Linked DNA regions of Homo sapiens: region 2 is linked to region 1. The links come from fine-mapping of genetic effects on gene expression. A gene starts in region 1. The other region holds a variant in brackets. All regions are shown on one strand. Distances are between the middles of the regions. Region 1 holds the start of RNF170 (ring finger protein 170). Region 2 holds the start of HGSNAT (heparan-alpha-glucosaminide N-acetyltransferase).

Region 1 (8,488 bases):
CAATTCTGTTACAACAACTGTGTAAAAGTAAATAAAATTCAAACGTTTTTAGAACCTCCAAAGCACCTTAAGCCTTGAAAGAGATATGACTATGATCTGGGTCACGTAACATGTTTACAATTCTGTTTCTTAGATTTTTAGCTTAACTCTTCCTCATTGTTCTTGTTCTATAAACAACTAAAAAAAGACTAAGTCTTTTTTTTAAAAGAGACCAGATCTCCTCCTTCTAATTGCTGATTTTTATTACAGATTAACTGCCTCCTTTATTGTCCTGTACCTAACTCAGACCAGATGGTGCCCCAAACAGGGGTCTCATGACAGTTACATTCTTTCTTCCCTAAAAAACGCACCTTGACTAATCAGATCATTATAACTGTACATTAAGCCTTACATTAAGATATTAAAATTCTGTTAAATGTCCCTAAATTTTGTCTATATAAACAATCCCAAATGTCTATACTGACGAGCACTGACTTCCATGCTTTTAAATCTGTCCTTTCCCAGGTGGCCTGTCCTCAACCTTTACACTTAAACTCTCTTTAAACTCGATTTTGACCTTTTAAATTATTTTAGGTTAACAACTGTGACTTTATTTCTTCACTTCCTTCTACTGCTAAATTTCTCTGATTCAGAGTTTCGGAATAGAGAAAAAGCCACATCAAAGCTAACATTAGAGTGGTTATCAGTGAGAAGCTGGACTGGCAAAACCAGACCATCACCCTCCCTAGGACACAGTTTCACAGTTTCAATTCTTTCAAGTATGAATTACTTTAACAAGAAAAATAAAGCCAATACTTGCTTCCTCTCTCGATATGCAAACTGAGCTTCAATGCCCGGTCAATGCCCATTCTCATCTACCACCCAGTCGCTCAGTTTCCTGACGGTGCCTACTCCGGAGGCACCTACACTGACCTAAGTGGCATGACTGGCATGTCAACTGCTAAACACTCTCACTACACCACAAATTTCCTTCTTGAAAAACAGATATTGCTCAAATTAATGTTTATAAATTTTTAAAATTTATTTTTTGAGACAGGGTCTTGTTCTGTCACCCAGGCTGGAGTGCAGTGGTGCACCCTTGGCTCACTGCAGCCTCGACCTCCCAGGCTCAATCAGTCTTCCTGCTGTGACTACAGGTGTGCACCACTAAGCTCAGTTAAATGTTTTATTTTTTGTAGAGATGGGTTTCACCATCTTGCCCAAGCTGGTCTCCAACTCCTGGGGTCAAGGAATTTACCCACCTAGGCCTCCCAAAGTGCTAGGATTATAGGCGTGAGGTAGCACGCCCAGCCAAAAATTAATGTTTATTGGTGCCAAATATTTACAGAATCCACAAGTGACTACAGTTCAGTTTTAGAATATGTAGATACTGTGCTCAATTGCTTCACCCTCAAAATTTTATTATTATTAATCACAGAATGTTAAGCACTTAGTTCCAAGCATATAAAGTAATATCTTACTGGATTTATTTTTTCATGTTATTTGGAGGCTCTGTTGCAGCGTTTTTTTTTTTTTTTTTAAACCCTAGATTCAGGCCAGTGCTGTGATTCACGCCTGTAATCACAGCATTTTGGGATGCCAAGGTGGGTGGATCACTTGAAGCCAGGAGTTTGAGACCAGCCTGGCCAACATGGTGAAACGCCATCTTTACTAAAAATACAAAAATTAGCCAGACGTGGTGGCACACGCCTGTGATCCCAGCTACTCGGGAGGCTGAGGCATGAGAATTGCTTGAACCTGGGGGGCAGAGGTTGCAGTGAGCCAAGATCGCACCACTGCACTCCAGCCTCGGTGACAGAACAAGACCTTGTCTCAAAAAACTGCCCAGATTTGATCATTACACATTGTACATATTTGTATAAAAATACCACAGGTACCCCATAAATATGTACAACTATTATACATCTATAAAAATTAAAAATACATTTTTAAAGAATGAATTCCTTTCAGTCAGGAATCATATCTTATTACTGTTAGTAGTGCGCAGGGTCTTACATGTTGTAGTGGCCACTAAAGGTTGTTTACATTAAACCCAAAAACAAGGTTATTAAATGTATAGAACATGGGATGTAATCTATTTCATGGTATCCTGTAAAATATGAAAAGAAGAGTTACTAATACTCGGTTTTGAACTGTTTAAGATTCACAAAAACTGAACCCCATCCATCTTGGAAACTGTGCAGTGTAACTGATAGAAGTTTGCAGAGAAACTGGCTTTGCTATTGCTCAGCTGGCTACATCTTATTGAGCAGTATCTTCAGACAGCAAACAAGCACAAGTTCCAGAGTCAGACAGCCCTGGACTTACATAAAGTTTCAGTCTCAGCTTCCTCATACGTAAAAGGCATTAGGTTGAACCATATCAAACTGCCACTCTTTTTTGGGGCGGGTGTGGCAGGGGAAGTGCTTTGCCTTGTGAAGTTTATAATGAGATAATGAAGGTAAGGCATTTAGCATACTGCTTGGCACATCATATAGGCTCTCAGTAAATGGAAGCTACAGTGTTTGGTTAATATTATTAACAACCGCCAAGGAATCATGATAAAACTAGCCATGTTTTGATATGATAAAAACTAGCCATGCCTGCCCCAGAGCTGCTCCACATAGCATCTCAAACTCTCTTTAATCACAGCTCTAAGTATGTGTTCCCTGGGAAGACAGGATGCAATCTGGAGCACTGTCACACAGGACATGCCCTCTTTAATCTGATAAGCAGCTGTGGGTGAGAACTAGCCTCCAACTAACCGGAGTAACCAGACAGCTAAGACAAGTTCAACTCACCTCTCCTCAGGCATTTCCAAAGCTTTCAGGGAAGGAAAAAAAATAAAACACACAGAGAAAATAGAAAAATAGGAAATTCCGGGACTTCCTGGAACAAAGGAGAGAATCTCAGTGTCTTTTTACCCCAAGGCTTACGTAGAAACTCAGCAGCCACATGGCTTCTGCAATTACTCACATCCAAAAAGTTTTTACTAATTTCTTTCATCAAAGGTAACTGGAATTACAAAATGAAACCTCCAGAACAACGTAACATCATGCACAAAAGCACTGTGGATATGCAGCCAAGCTTGAAAAAGGAGACTTTAGGTCCATTGTGTCAAAGCCTTGAAAACCGGGGCCACTGGAGGAAGGGTGCTCAGGACGGCACAACCACAGTCGCTCCAGTAGGGCCAGCATCTTATCTGCCCATCTAAAGACAAGCTGCATGTGAGTCAGGAGTAAGTCAATGTGACATATACTCACTGACTTCATTCACTTGCCTACAAGATTATACGTCACTTAAAAGTGCTAGAGATTCGACAGAAATAACCTGATAAGGAATGTAGGAACTCTAGTTTGACAAATATCCAGAGGCACCAACACAGGAACCAAACACAGGCGAGACACACATGTGTAATTTTTTTTTTCTTTTGAGACAGATTCTCGTTCTGTCGTCAGGATGGAGTGCAGTGGCGCGATCTCGGCTCACTGCAACCTCAGCCTCCCGCGTTCAAGCGATTCTCCTGCCTCAGCCTCCCGAGTAGCTGGGACTACAGGAGCCCGCCACCACGCCCGGCTAATTTTTGTATTTTTAGTAGAGACGGGGTTTCACCATGTTGGCCAGGATCTCTTGACATCGTGATCCGCTCGCCTCGGCCTCCCAAAGTGCTGGGATTACAGGCGCGAGACACCGCGCCTGGCCACGTATGTGTAATTTCTAAAGGTTTCTCTGCCCTTGGTGTAGGGAAGAATGTTTGAAAAAAAGACCATTGAGAATACTTCAGGTAAGTTTTTTTTTTTTTACACTTACAAAATGCTAAATGATCAGGGGTCAACTATCAAGTGGTACTCTGTAAGGCAACCTTAAAAACTCACTGCTGACCCAGGCTCGGTGGCTCACACTTTTGATCCCAGCACTTTTGGGAGGCTAAGGCGGGCGGATCACTTGAGCCCAGGAATTTGAGACCAGCCTGGGCAACATAGCGAGACCCCCTCTCTACAAAAAATAAGAAAATTAGCTGAGCATCGTGGCCTGCACCTGTGGTTCCAGCTACTTGGGAGGCTGAGGTAGGAGGATCACTTGAGCCCAGGAGGCAGAGGTTGCAGTGAACCAAGATTGCGCCACTGCACTCCAGAACGAGACCCTTTCTCAAAAACCACCATCAACAACAACAAAAAACCCCACTCAATGCTGTCTTGGCAGTTTTCAGTGCTCAATGAGAAAACCTACTCTTAATGGAAAAAAAGTGGGGGAAAGGGGTTCCAGGAACTACAAAGCAAAGTGTGTCTTGGGAAGTTAGCTTTGTTGCACTCCAAATAAAAATTTGGCATTGGGTGGTAGTTATGCATACTCTACGCATCGACAATTCTCTAAGGACTCCAAAGTGCATGTCCTGGAAATTCCAACATATTTGCACTACGTTCCAGGTACACTAGAATGTTTATAGCCATGTTCTGAGTGGCCTCAGTCTGAACAAAATGCCCAACCAGAGTAGAATGGATTCACTGTTCTATTCACACTGGAATACTAGGCAACAATTAAAATTACCTATACATACACAGTACACCAATTTAATACTGATTGAAAACCACAAAACAACACACTGTGATCCACCCGCAAAAGTTCAAAAACAGGCAAAGGAAAACGACATCGCATGCACACATAGATGGTAAAGCTGTAAGGAAATGATCACACTAGTCAGGCTAGGAGACAATCAGGCTCCGAAAGGAGCACAGGGCATGGGTGAGAAACTCCTGGGGTGCCGGTAATGCCCTTTTCGTTTTTATCTGGGTGTTTTATTAATTCTTCTTTAAACGTGTATGTCGTATGCACTTTTCTGCGTATGCTATATCTGTTAAAAATTTATCGGCAGCCCAGCAGACAGATTCGTGCCTCTAAAGAGGTGGAAGCTCCAGAACGATCCGCCTCGCCATTAAGCGAAGGCAACTCCGAACGCTGAGAAACGCAGGCCCGGGGTCGGCCGGTGTCCTTACGGATTGGCGAGCGGGCGCACACCCCTCCTGCATTAAGGAGAGTTCTCAGGGTCACGCTCCGAGCGACCCTAGAGGGAGCGGCGGTGTCCTCGCCGCCGCCAAACCCACCTAGAGCCGCTCTCCGCGTCGGCCCCTCCACCGTCGCCGGCGACTCCGGACAGCCGCGGGGCGATTCTGGGGCTTCCAGACGAGGGAGGGGCCCGGGGGGAAGGAGGCGGCGACTCCCGCCGCCCCGCAGAGCCTCGGCGGCCAGAGCTACCCCAAGAAGGCCAGACCCCGCCGTCCGCGGCTCCGCGGGCCCCGATAGGGTGGGCGTGGCCGCCGCGCGCCGGACGTACCTCTCCACCGCGAAGGAACTACCTCGCCAGTTCCCGGCGACAGAGGACAGATTATTTCCAGGACCGCTCCCGCCACCCCTCCCGGGCAACCCACTAGACGTCCCCTTTCTAATTTGGAGTGCGGGTGCGGGCGCACGCGCACTGCCGAGCTTCCGCGAGGGCGCGACCGGACGGCGGAGGAGGACCCGTCGCCGCAGCCTCCAGGGCGGAGCGCGTGCTCGCCTCGACACGCAGCGAACTGGTGGCGGGGGCGCGCCCGGCGGCAGCGGCGGCGGCGGCGGCGGCGGCGGCGGCGCGGCGGCGCGGGTCGGCCGGGGCGCGAGCGTGCGCAGTGGCTCCTCGGCCTCGGCTCCAGCCAGGGCGGCGGCGCTGGGGAGGAGCGGTGTGGGCGGCCGGGGGCGGGGACGCGGGGCGGCGGGCGTGTCCGAAGTCGCGCGCGGCTGGCGCGCGGTCCCGAGTGAAAGGAGAAGGAGGGGCGCTGGGGGTGACGGTGCGGAGCCGCTGCCAGCGCTGGGCGAGAGTCGGCGGCCGGATCCGAGGAGCAGGCGGGCCTGAGGCCGAGTCAGCTGCGCGGGCCCCCGGATCCCCCGACAGAGCGGCGGCGGTGTCTGGCCAGGCGGTAGGCGCTGCCTGGCCGCGGCGGGGAAGATGTTCAGCGTAGAGTCGCTGGAGCGGGCGGAGCTGTGCGAGAGCCTCCTCACTTGGGTACGTGGGGGCCGCGGGCCGGCGGGAAGACCCCCTCCCCCCGCCACCTACCGGGACCCTCCACGCGCGGCCCGTGGGGCGAGCGCTGCGGGCGACGGTGCCGTCACATCCGGGGCCTGGGGCGGGCGGGGCGAGGAGGCTCGGCCCAGGGTCCGAGAGAGACTTGCCGGGCCTGAGGCGTCGCTGTTCCGGGCGGACCCCGGCCGGGGCTGGGCTGGGAACGCGGCGGGCGACTCTGGGATCCGTGCGGCTGCTCGCAGCTGGGGCTGCGCTGCGCTCTGGGGGTGGCCGAGCCTGACTGCCCCGCGTCCAGGACCCGCCGCCGCTCCTCGCCTTTGTTGCCGCGTTCGCGGAGGACGGGCCCGGCTCCGGCCCGGGAACTGAAAGGACCTGTGAGGGAGCGTGGGGAGAATGCGGGAGGCGCCCGGGGACCCCGTTTCGGATGCAAGGCACCGCTGGCGGTGGGAGTGCGCGAGGGGCGGACGCCTGTCAGAGGCGTCGGGCAGACGTTTAAAGGAGTCTGGAGGTGTCTGGGCGTCAACAATGGAACTCGAAGGCCTTGGGGGACAGAGTCGTGGGATTCTGATTTTGAATTCTTAAACGGTTTTAGATTCCTCATACTTTGAAGTAAATACATGTTCACCTCTCACGTCAGCTGCCGCGCCTTCCTGAAGCCGGGTCTTCAGGACGCGGCAGGGGAACCGACGCCCGGGTTCCAGTCGTTCTCGCCGCGGCGCGGCCGGGGAGGGGGAGGGATGCGCAGAGCCCGGGCGGACCCCGCGCTGCCTTCGGGAGCCTCCGTTTCACTCATTGCTGAGAATGTTAATTAAATGTTTACGGATGTGTTTATGAAGGCTACTACAGCATTTGTATTACTTTTAAAGGTAAAACACGAATGTGAGAGAAATTCTCTTTAGCGGTGTCTTGGGTTACGAGTCAGGATCCCTGGAGTGTAGACGTCACGATCCTGTGCAAGGCACTTTGCTGGAAAGGCTGGAGAAGTATTGCCTTACGTTGGTTGTTAAAAAAATTAATAAAAATAGTCTGAGGTTTTTATAGTTTGGCTACGTCACGAATCAATTTCTGTCCTCTGAAACAGACTTGGTAGAGCTTGAGTAGCCAGTTGCATATCAGACCATTTAGGGGATTTCAGATCGTTAGCAGTAGTATGTAGTTAGCGTGCAGCTTACCCTTCTGATGAGTTCTCCCTCCAGGCAAGGAGATGGCTTTCACTGCTGTATTTCAGAAAAGAGGAAGACTGGTAAGTTGTATAATGTGGCTGAGGTTTCTGACTAGGCAGGGGAGAGAGAGAGAGGAAAGAATTACTAAATTCTTTGATGTTGTGGAAGGAATAGATTTGGCAGAATCTGTACATCTGTAAACAGAATGCTGAGGAACTTAAGATTTAAGTTTTTGAGACTGTGCAAGTAGTGCTTCCCTTTATGCTAGAAGAAGCAGCCAGAAGGCAAAGATGAAGCTAATTGAATCTAAGTAGGGCTACATTGTTTAAAATCTAGGGAGAAAGAAGACATGGAAATAAAGAGGTGTACAGAGGCTCCTTAACTTGCGATGGGGTTACATCCCGGTAAACCCATCATAAGTTGAAAATACCGTAAGTTGAAAATGCATTTCATACGCCTAACCGTCCAAACGGTAGCTTAGCTTGGTCTACCTTAAACGTGCTCAGAACACTTACCTTAGCCTACAATTGGGCAAAATCATCTACCACAAAACGTGTTTTATAATAAATTGTTGAATATCTAATGCAATTTATTGAACACTGTACTGAAAATGAAAAATATAATGGTTGTATGGGCACTCAGAGTATGGTTTCTACTGAATGTGTATCTTGCATCATTGTAAAGTTGAAAAGTCTTAAGTTAAACCATCCTAAGTTGGGGACCGTCTGTATTTGAAGGGTATCCACAAAATATGGTAGGTAGTAATTGCATTTATTTAAGTGAGAAATGCTGATAAAAATATACAGGAGAAATCTTAGAAGTTTGAAGGCCTGCTGACAGAACCTGACAACATGAGAGAATCTATTTAGAATCTCCTAAAATGTCAAGAAAACGAGTAATCCACATTATCAGCTGTAGAGAGGTCAGGGAGTATAGTATTGTAGAATAGGCTTTTTGAAATGTCACTGGAAACTCATCAATGAGAATTTCTGGATAAGATTAGAGATTATCAGTGACAAAATTGGAGGGCAGTGTTCATGAAGATGTACAGTTCTAAAATTTGGAAACACTTTAAAAGACATGTTTCAAAATAGAGTTTAAATGCTGGGTTTGTTCTCTTTTAGCTGTCATTATAAAAAGCAGAATAAATGTTTCAATGAGCAATGTTTGATGACATTTAAATGTATAATATCACCCCTCCTATCTGTAAGCCAGATTAATGCTAAGCACAATTCTAAAACCAAATGCAAGCAAAAATGTACACATACACTCCAAAGAAAAGACTCATTTA
Region 2 (8,488 bases), 250 kb after region 1:
ATCATCCAGAGGTTTCCTTTTGGGAAAGTAAGACCAAGGGAGCTAACCAAAGCCAAGCACCATGCACCCAAATCCTACCAAACATAACTGTAGCCACCAGTTATCTGGGTGTGTCACAAGACATCCTTTTCTCTCCCTTGTTGGAGGACTCAGTTCCACAGTTTTTCCTTAGCATTTGGCTTACGAGAAGGAGTCCATGCAACCCCTCAACCCCTGAGCATAAGTGAGGTCTAGGGAACTCCAAGACTACTGACAGCAGGGGTGATAGGGCATTCATGGGTAGAGGAGATAATTCCCACCCTCTAGACCCCTGCTTCATGGATGCAAGCCATTTTGGCACCCATGGTAGCACTTTCGAAGGTTGCATGGGGATGCAAGGATGGAAGAGGACGCTATTCCTTCTATCCCTCACGTACCCCAGGTATTTGCTAGGAAAAGAACCAGGGATGCCTGCTCCCCTCTTTCTATGTGGGTAGCCATTTATCTTCAGTCTGCACCACTTTCAAATGCATCTGGAACCCTTCGGATTCCTTTGAAAAAATGCCTTCTTTTTTCCTTTCTCCTCCTCGGTTCACAATGACAATCCTAATTGTGTCTCCATACTATGGGACACTCCCCTCAGATGCATTTTCCAAACTGGAAAGAGTTAATTTCCTAAACCTTAAACTGGCTGGCTTAGGATTGGTTTCAGGGGAAGGGAACCCAGAAGCCCAACATGCCAGCAAAAGGGTAAAGTTGTTTACCATTCGGACTTTTGGCCCCCTTCTCCGTGTACAAATTGGTAAAAAGCCTCAGGATTTTTGAGCTGTCCTTATCCCTCCCCTTGTTTCTTTTCTTTTCTTTTTTTTTTTGAGACAGGGTCTCACTCTGTCGCCCAGGCTGGAGTGCAGTGATGTGGTCTTGGCTCACTGCAACCTCCGTTCAAACGATTCTCCTGCCTCAACCTCCTAAGTAGCTGGGAGTACAGGCAGGCACCACCACTGCTGGCTAATTTTTGTATTTTTAGTAGAGACAGGGTTTCACCATGTTGGCCAGGCTGGTCTTGAACTCCTGACCTGCCAGGCTGGAGTGCAGTGGCATAATCTTGGCTCACTGCAAACTCTGCCTCCCGGATTCAAGTGATTCTCCTGCCTCAGCCTCCCAAGTAGCTGGGACTACAGGTACTTGCCATGACGCCCGGCTAATTTTTTGTATTTTTAGTAGTGACAGGGTTTCACCATGTTGGCCAGGATGGTCTCGATTTCTTGACCTCGTGATCCACCTGCCTTGGCCTCCCAAAGTGCTGGGATTACAGGCGTGAGCCACTGTGCCCGGCCATATGTGTTTAATAACCCAGTTTGTCTCTTCTTGCCTTCAGGACATCAAACGGTCATGCTACTGGAAGCTCGGACCATGGCCCCTTCTGCTGGGCACCCTTAGATAGGCCTCTGAGGGAGATCTGATTGCCATTTTCCCGAAACAGTGCCCCCTATCAGCAGGAAGCAGTTAAGATCTGTCTTTGTCCCTATTCTTATCCTAGTGGCAGTTAGATAGACTTCTTTAGAGCGAGGAATGAGCCAGATGGGAAGGGTTCCCTGGTAAAACTCCAACTGGCCTGTGCACTGCTCTGGGGTGGAGCCACAGAAGTTCGCTCCTCAGTTTGCAGCTGGGAGGAGCCTGGCCCTCCTCTTCCTCGGGAGAACCTGGGATTTAATCTGTGAGGTGGGAAGCCTACAACTAGGAGAACTCTGGCTCTGCTGAGTCCCTGTTCCCCTTTTTCTTCCTTTACACCCAATAAAACCCTGCCTTACCCTTCAAATTGTCTGCGAGCCTAATCTTTCCTGGCGTGTGACAAGGACCTCCACCGTCTTTAGCTGAACTAAGGAAAAGTCCCGCAACATTTTCATGTGTGCCTTTGTATTTTTATTACATATATGGATGTCCCTAAACAACATACATTATTGTTTTGCTTTATATATTAAAAAGGCATTCTGCAATTTGCATTTTCCCCAGCCTTGTGTTTTGAGATTTATCCATGTGGATGCGGGAAGCTGTAGAGCACTTCCCCTGCTGTGGGGCAGTTTGTTTTCTCGCTGGCGGACATTCAGCTTGTTGACAAGGTTTTGCAATTACAAGCACCTCTGCTATAGGTATTACTGTACCTGTCCCTTATACCTGCGATAGTGTCTCCCGGCATACAGCCAAGAATGGGTGTGCACACTCCTCGACCTGCTCCCTTCCACTTCGTCAGCCTGGCCGGGGGCTCTTTCAAGAGGTGGGGCCGCTTGGTGGCTTCTAAGTCGTGCCTCTCCCTCTGGGTAATAAACGCCTTGGGGGCAGGGACTTTGCAGTCTTGCTTATTGAGGCGTTTTCCAAAACAGGGACCGAGGGCTCTAACACCCGTGCGGAGGGTGGCCGGCGGGGGCGGGAGTTTGGCAGAATGCGGCTGGAGAAGGTGGGGCGAGGGAAGAAGGCTCCTGGCCTGCAGGGGCCTCTCTTCCGGCTGTTTTTCCTCCCGAAGACAAACACTCCCAACGCAGGGGCGCAGAGCCTCGGCTTCTTTCCTGGCCAGCTCCCTCAAGGCAGGGCCTAGCATGGCCCGGCCCAGCCCCTAGGTTCCCCCGCCCGCGGCTCCCGGGCGCCTCCGCCTCCCGCGGTGACTCAGGCGGCGGTGACGGCAGCGGAGGGGGCGATGACGGGCGCGCGGGCGTCCGCGGCGGAGCAGCGCAGGGCGGGGCGCAGCGGGCAGGCAAGGGCGGCCGAGCGGGCGGCGGGCATGAGCGGGGCGGGCAGGGCGCTGGCCGCGCTGCTGCTGGCCGCGTCCGTGCTGAGCGCCGCGCTGCTGGCCCCCGGCGGCTCTTCGGGGCGCGATGCCCAGGCCGCGCCGCCACGAGGTGAGTGCACACCTCCTACCGCCGCCCGGCCGGCTACGAGCGCAGCGTCTCCTCTCCGCGGCGCCGCCCCTATCTCCGTGCGCGGCGCCGAGCGCTAGGCCGGGCCGGAACCGCCCCCGTGGCCTGGGCTGTTGCTGCGACTTCGCGGTCCCGCGCCCCAGACCGGAGGCCGGACTTCGGGGTGCTGCGGCCGGGCCCCGCGGAGGCGGGGGAGGGGGCGGTTCGGACCGCGGCGGAGTGGAACCTGGGCGCCCAGGCGGCGCCCACCCCAGCGGAGCCTGCGTCCTGGCGCCTTCCGTCTAAACAGAGGCCGCGGATCGGGACGCCGGGACCCCACAAACTGGCAGCCAGGAGGCGGGCCAGCCGAGGATCGGGGGGGCTCGGACTCCCCCTGCACCCAGTCCACTGTTCGGAGGGACTTAGAGCAGGGTCCCTTCCCTGAGGGCCTCGCCCCCGAGGACGTGGCGCCGGAGCCGTGCGACCCATTGGCTTCAGCGGGTGGGAAGCCTGGGGCCGGGACGCGCGTTCGCCCCGCGCTGGGGTTGAACCTGCGTGGATGTGCGGCGGGTGAGGAACCGCGGAGAAGGCGGTGGGGGCGCGGCCTGCAGCCCGGTCCCGGGCGAGCCCTCCGCGCGTCTCCCCTCGGCGCGTTTTCCCTCCAGGGTGACTGGGAAGCCGCCGCCGCCGCCGCCGCCGCCTGGGAGGGGCCGGGCTGGGCGCTTTTGCCCCGGGCCCCGGACCCCGGGCGTTTGTCCGGTGCGCTGGCTTAAGAGGCGCTCAGCTCATACCGTGATTGCACAACTGGCTTGCTCTCCGAACTCGGTGGGGAAAACGGTGACAAATACAGATTCCAGGTCTCCATCTAGACCCCTGCACCGGGGAGCCCCAGGCCCTAGGTCCTTCGCACACGCCCCTCCCAGAGGGGTCGGGCAAGCATCGCAAACCCCTTTGGGTAGGAGGGACGGTGGGAGTCACC[T/C]GTCTTTCCCCTCTCGCGCCCTTTTCTTGGTCAGAATACGAAGTTTTAGTGTCTGTGTATGGAGTTCAAACGACCCCTCCTCTCCAAGCAGAAGCTGGAGGAGAAAGGCGTTGTGAATTTTGGAAAAGCGGCTCAGAGGATTACATTTTGTGCGATCCTTGATCCACCCAACCTTCATCTCCTGCGCTCCCCTCCTTTAAAATTGCAAGGACCCCGGGGAGGTTATGTAATCTGCCTGATCACAATTTGTCAGGGACTGATCCCGCCGAACACTCTTTGCATTTTAGCGCCAGTATTAGCTTATCAAAGGGCACTTACTTTTAGAGAGAGGTGGTTTGTAAATAGTAATCACACGTAGTGAGGGGAAGCCGCGTTGGGACCGCAAGGCTTTCCCTGTCACCTGGAGCCCATGTTTGGGCCGCACAGCTTTCCTACTAAAAACGTCATCATCTTCCTTCTTTTTGAAAATTCAGCATTTGCTTGAAGAAAAAAAAAAGTAGACTATGTCTTTAAAAATATGCCCAGCAAAGATAACTCACGAGCAGAGAGCTAGACCAGAAATTAAATATTTGGAAAGGAAATAAAGGTGTAATACACAAGCAGCACATTTATCCCCGCACCATTGGAAGGTGACTTTATTTGGTAATTTGCCCACCAAGACGAGGTAGACCAGAGGAGAGAGAAGGAAATAATTGTTCTTTTGTCTGTAACGCTCTGGGGGTATTGCCCTGGAATTTCTTAGGTCAGCTGCTGTGTGGGAAGGTGACAGCTTTTTCTTGAAGCTGAACATCAAGCTCAGTTTCGAGGTCATATTTGATGACTTATTTGATGGCTTAGTAATTGGGTCCTTTGGTCGTGTCTGTAAGTGATACAGACTGTTATTATTATTTTTAAAAACCACATTCAAATAATGCAAAGTGAAAAAAAAAGGTGTCAAAATCCGCTGGCGTTACTCTGACAGTCTCTAGCTGTGGTTCCCTAGCTGTGGTCTTCACCCTCGGCTGCACACTCGAATCCCTTTGGGAGGTTCGTTGTTTTTTGTGGGAAATTAAAAAAATCATGCTGATTGGGCAGAGATTCTGATTTAATTGGTCTGGAATGGGGCCAGGGCATTGGTAACTTTTGTAGTTTTTTTAGAGCTTCCTCAGGTAATTTTGACATTCAATGAAGACTGAGCCCCTCTGCACATTCCCAAATAGCATAGTTAGTAACAATGACAATGAAGAGCTTTCAGCCTAAAATTCGTGTGGATAATCTAAGTATAAAACAAGTACCTTATTCCGCCCACCACCAAAGGCTTAGAGAAACATGAGTACACACAGTACTTATTCCATCTACGAAGGGATGATGATGTGTGGAGAAATTACGAAGGAAAAGCTCATGGCTTCATGGTCTCTTGGGTATGATCAAGTGTAGGAAAAAGTCTACAGAGAGTGACTAGAAATGTGAAAATGGAAGCCATTAAAACTGAAGAAGGGAAATGAAAAAGAACTATTTTAAAACGATGACAAATTGACAAAGGATTTAATATTTTTGTCTTTAATGTAGAGAAGTTATGCAAATACCTCAGAAGGTGTCAGGGATTAAATAAAGGTGGTTAAATAAATAAATGATTCAGGAATTAATATGAAAGTCACATACTGATGGTAAACATTTGGAAAACATGTTCAAACTTGTTAATCACAAATTCAAAACTAAAATAATTAGGACGTGCCATTTTCTATCCACCAGGCTAACATATGAGGGAAACATGGAAAGGCTAATCTGGCTGGGCTTATAGGGAGGGATCTGTTGAGGCTCAGGAGACTGGTTAGCCGTTATGTGCACAGTTAGACTGACCTCAGCTTAAATCCTGGCTGCTAGTAGGTGACTTTGGGCAAGCTGCTTGACCTCTTCAGGCCTCAGATGCCTCATCCCAAAATGGAGACACCAGGAGCTATTTCTTTCTTTCTTTTTTTTTTTTTTGAGACAGAGTCTCGCTCTGTCGCCCAGGCTGGAGTGCAGTGGTGCGAACTCAGCTCACTGCAAGCTCCGCCTCCTGGGTTCACACCATTCTCCTGACTCAGCCTCCCGAGTAGCTGGGACTATAGGCACCCACCATCACGCCTGGCTAATTTTTTTTTTTTTTGTATTTTTTAGTAGAGATGGGGTTTCACCGTGTTAGCCAGGATGGTCTCAATCCCCTGACCTCATGATCCACCCTCCTTAGCCTCCCAAACTGCTGGGATTACAGGTGTGAGCCACCGTGCCTGGCCCACCAGGAGCTATTTCATAGGGCTCTTGGGGCCTGGTGGTTCTTTGGTAAGTGTGGTTCTTTGTATTACCTGGGAGATCTCAACCATCACAGTTGTCATTAGAAATCAGCACAACTGAATTGGAGAGAAATTTTGTAATGCATATCAGAAGCTATTCAAAAGCCTGTTTTTGGTTAAAGATTTTACTCTTGGGCCCGGTGTGGTGGCTCACGCCTGTAGTCCTAGCACTTTTGGGAGGTCGAGGTGGGCAGATCACTTGACCCCAGGAAGTTGAGACCAGCCTAGGTAACATGGTGAAACCCTGTGTCTACAAAAAAAGACAAAAAAAAATTAGCTGGATGTGCTGGCATGCCCCTGTAGTCCCAGCTACTTGGGAGGCTGAGGTGGGAGGATTGCTTGAACTCAGGAGGTTGAGGCTGCAGTGGGCCGAGATCTTGCCACTGCACTCCAGCCTGGGAGACAGAGCGAGACTCTGTCTCAAAAAAAAAAAAAAAAAAATTTTAACTGGATGTTCCCGATCCTGAAGAGGCTCTGTTGGTCTCTGCATTGGTTGGATGTGGCCTGGATCACTGTAATGTCTATGTGTTGAGCACTTGTTTCTGTGCCAGCCACTTTGTAGATGGTCAAGTTTAGATTTCCCAACGGTTTCATGAGGCACATACTCTTATGACCCTTAATTTATTGGTGAGGAAACTGAGGCAAGTTGGGCTTCAGATTCAAGTTTAACTTGAATTTATCCCACTATGTCATACTCCAGGTCCCAAACATCGCTTCCACTGAAAGCTTTCCAGGAGACCAAAGAACAGAAAAAATGATTGTGAAAGCTTTCTTTGGCCTAGAGAACCAAAAGCTATAGTGGATTATTATTATTATTATTATTTTGCTGAAAGCTTTATTTGTTCTCACTTAGGGTAAATGAAAAATTTCAAGATTTGGCTACAACTTCATTCTTTGAAAAGTAATGTTTTACAGAAAGAGAGGTTAGGGGTACTGGCTCTGAAGACAAAGCTTAGATTCAAGCCCAGCTTCACCACTTACACCAGTCCCCTGATTTTGCCGTTTCCTTGTGATATAAGGCACTCAGGAACACAAGCCAGGCACACAGTAAGTGTTCAGGAAGTGCTGGCATTATGAAGTTCAAACAGCACCACTGGTAAATGAAGTTCAGATTTCAGAGGTGGAGACTGTGTATGCAGCCTCACAGCTAAGTGGATGCCATGGTGAAATGTTTAGATCATAGGCCTTTGAGAAGAATTATCAGAATGTTAGAGGAATGGGCCTCCCTTGGCACCCAGAAATAAACGTTAAAGGAGGCTATTTCATCATATAACAACTTCCGAACTTCTAGAAAAGTGAAAAGAGAGGCTTGGGTAAGGAAGATGAAAGCCCTCCCACCACCCTGCGTGCTGACCTAGGGCATCCTTCCTTCTACTCTGTTGTTAGATCCTCATGATGGCCAAAAAAAAGCATTCTTTAACCTAAAGCATCCCCATGGCTCAATCTCTACCCCTTCATCACCAAGGAAAAGCCAGCTCTAGTGGATTAAGAGTTTTATACTGCAGGGCTTGTCTTCACTGAGAGCTAAATAAGGGTAAAGTAAGATAAACTTAAAAATGAGGGATTGAGGCCCGGCACAGTGGCTCATGCCTATAATCCCAGCACTTTGGGAGGCCGAGGCAGGCAGATCACGAGGTCAAGAGATCGAGACCATCCTGGCCAATGTGGTGAAACCCCGTCACTACTAAAAATACAAAAATTAGCTGGGTTTGGTGGTGCGTGCCTGTAGTCCCAGCTACTCAGGAGGCTGAGGCAGGAGAATGGCTTGAACCCGAGTGGTAGAGGTTGCAGTGAGCCGAGATCGCGCCACTGCACTCCAGCCTGGGTGACAGAGCAAGACTCCATTTAAAAAAAAAAGAAAGAAAGAGGGATTGAGCTGGCTACGTGAAGAATTCATGATTCTGCCATTCAAATGAGTGACTAGGGAGCCCAGAGGAAGCTTTCCCATTACAAAATAGAGACCGAGTTCTTACCTTCCTCATTGTGTTATTAAGTAGTTCCCCATTTTTTTCTTTTGGGTAAATTTACTCAGAGGATAAATTAACTTCTCTTTTATATAATATCATATAAATGGCCCAGTTGGTTGACATGAACCACTCTGCTTTGACTTTTAGACAAGAGCAGTTCACTTTATTTTTCCTACCAAATTGGCACACGTGATTTTAGAATGTGCGTCATCTTTCTGTCATCCTCAGCACATCATCTAGTGAACTGGTGAGCTGTGTGAGTTTCTGGATTGGGGCATGCTCCCAATCCAGGATTCACTGCTCCCAATCCAGGAGCAGTGAGTTTCTCTGCCCTTCAGACTGAGGCTTGTCTTAAAACTG

Evidence for each region.
Region 2: its variant is fine-mapped to the expression of RNF170 in whole blood (TOPMed, PIP 0.98).

What each region holds. Positions count from the first base shown.
Region 1 is chr8:42,891,173-42,899,660 of GRCh38, forward strand. RNF170 (ring finger protein 170) reads right to left here and starts at 5,433. Exons shown (of 7, transcript NM_030954.4): 1 at 5,312-5,433. HOOK3 (hook microtubule tethering protein 3) reads left to right here and starts at 5,806. Exons shown (of 22, transcript NM_032410.4): 1 at 5,806-6,016. The coding sequence starts at 5,960. It overlaps MIR4469 (microRNA 4469), which reads right to left and starts at 5,103; the gene lies at 5,025-5,103. RefSeq lists an enhancer at 4,550-5,111 and silencers at 5,018-5,229, 5,025-5,384, 5,565-6,354, 6,365-6,424.
Region 2 is chr8:43,137,742-43,146,229 of GRCh38, forward strand. HGSNAT (heparan-alpha-glucosaminide N-acetyltransferase) reads left to right here and starts at 2,723. Exons shown (of 18, transcript NM_152419.3): 1 at 2,723-2,873. The coding sequence starts at 2,756. RefSeq lists an enhancer at 1,385-1,679 and silencers at 2,523-3,312, 3,323-3,702, 5,901-5,950. The variant T/C (reference allele first, on the strand shown) is at 3,850.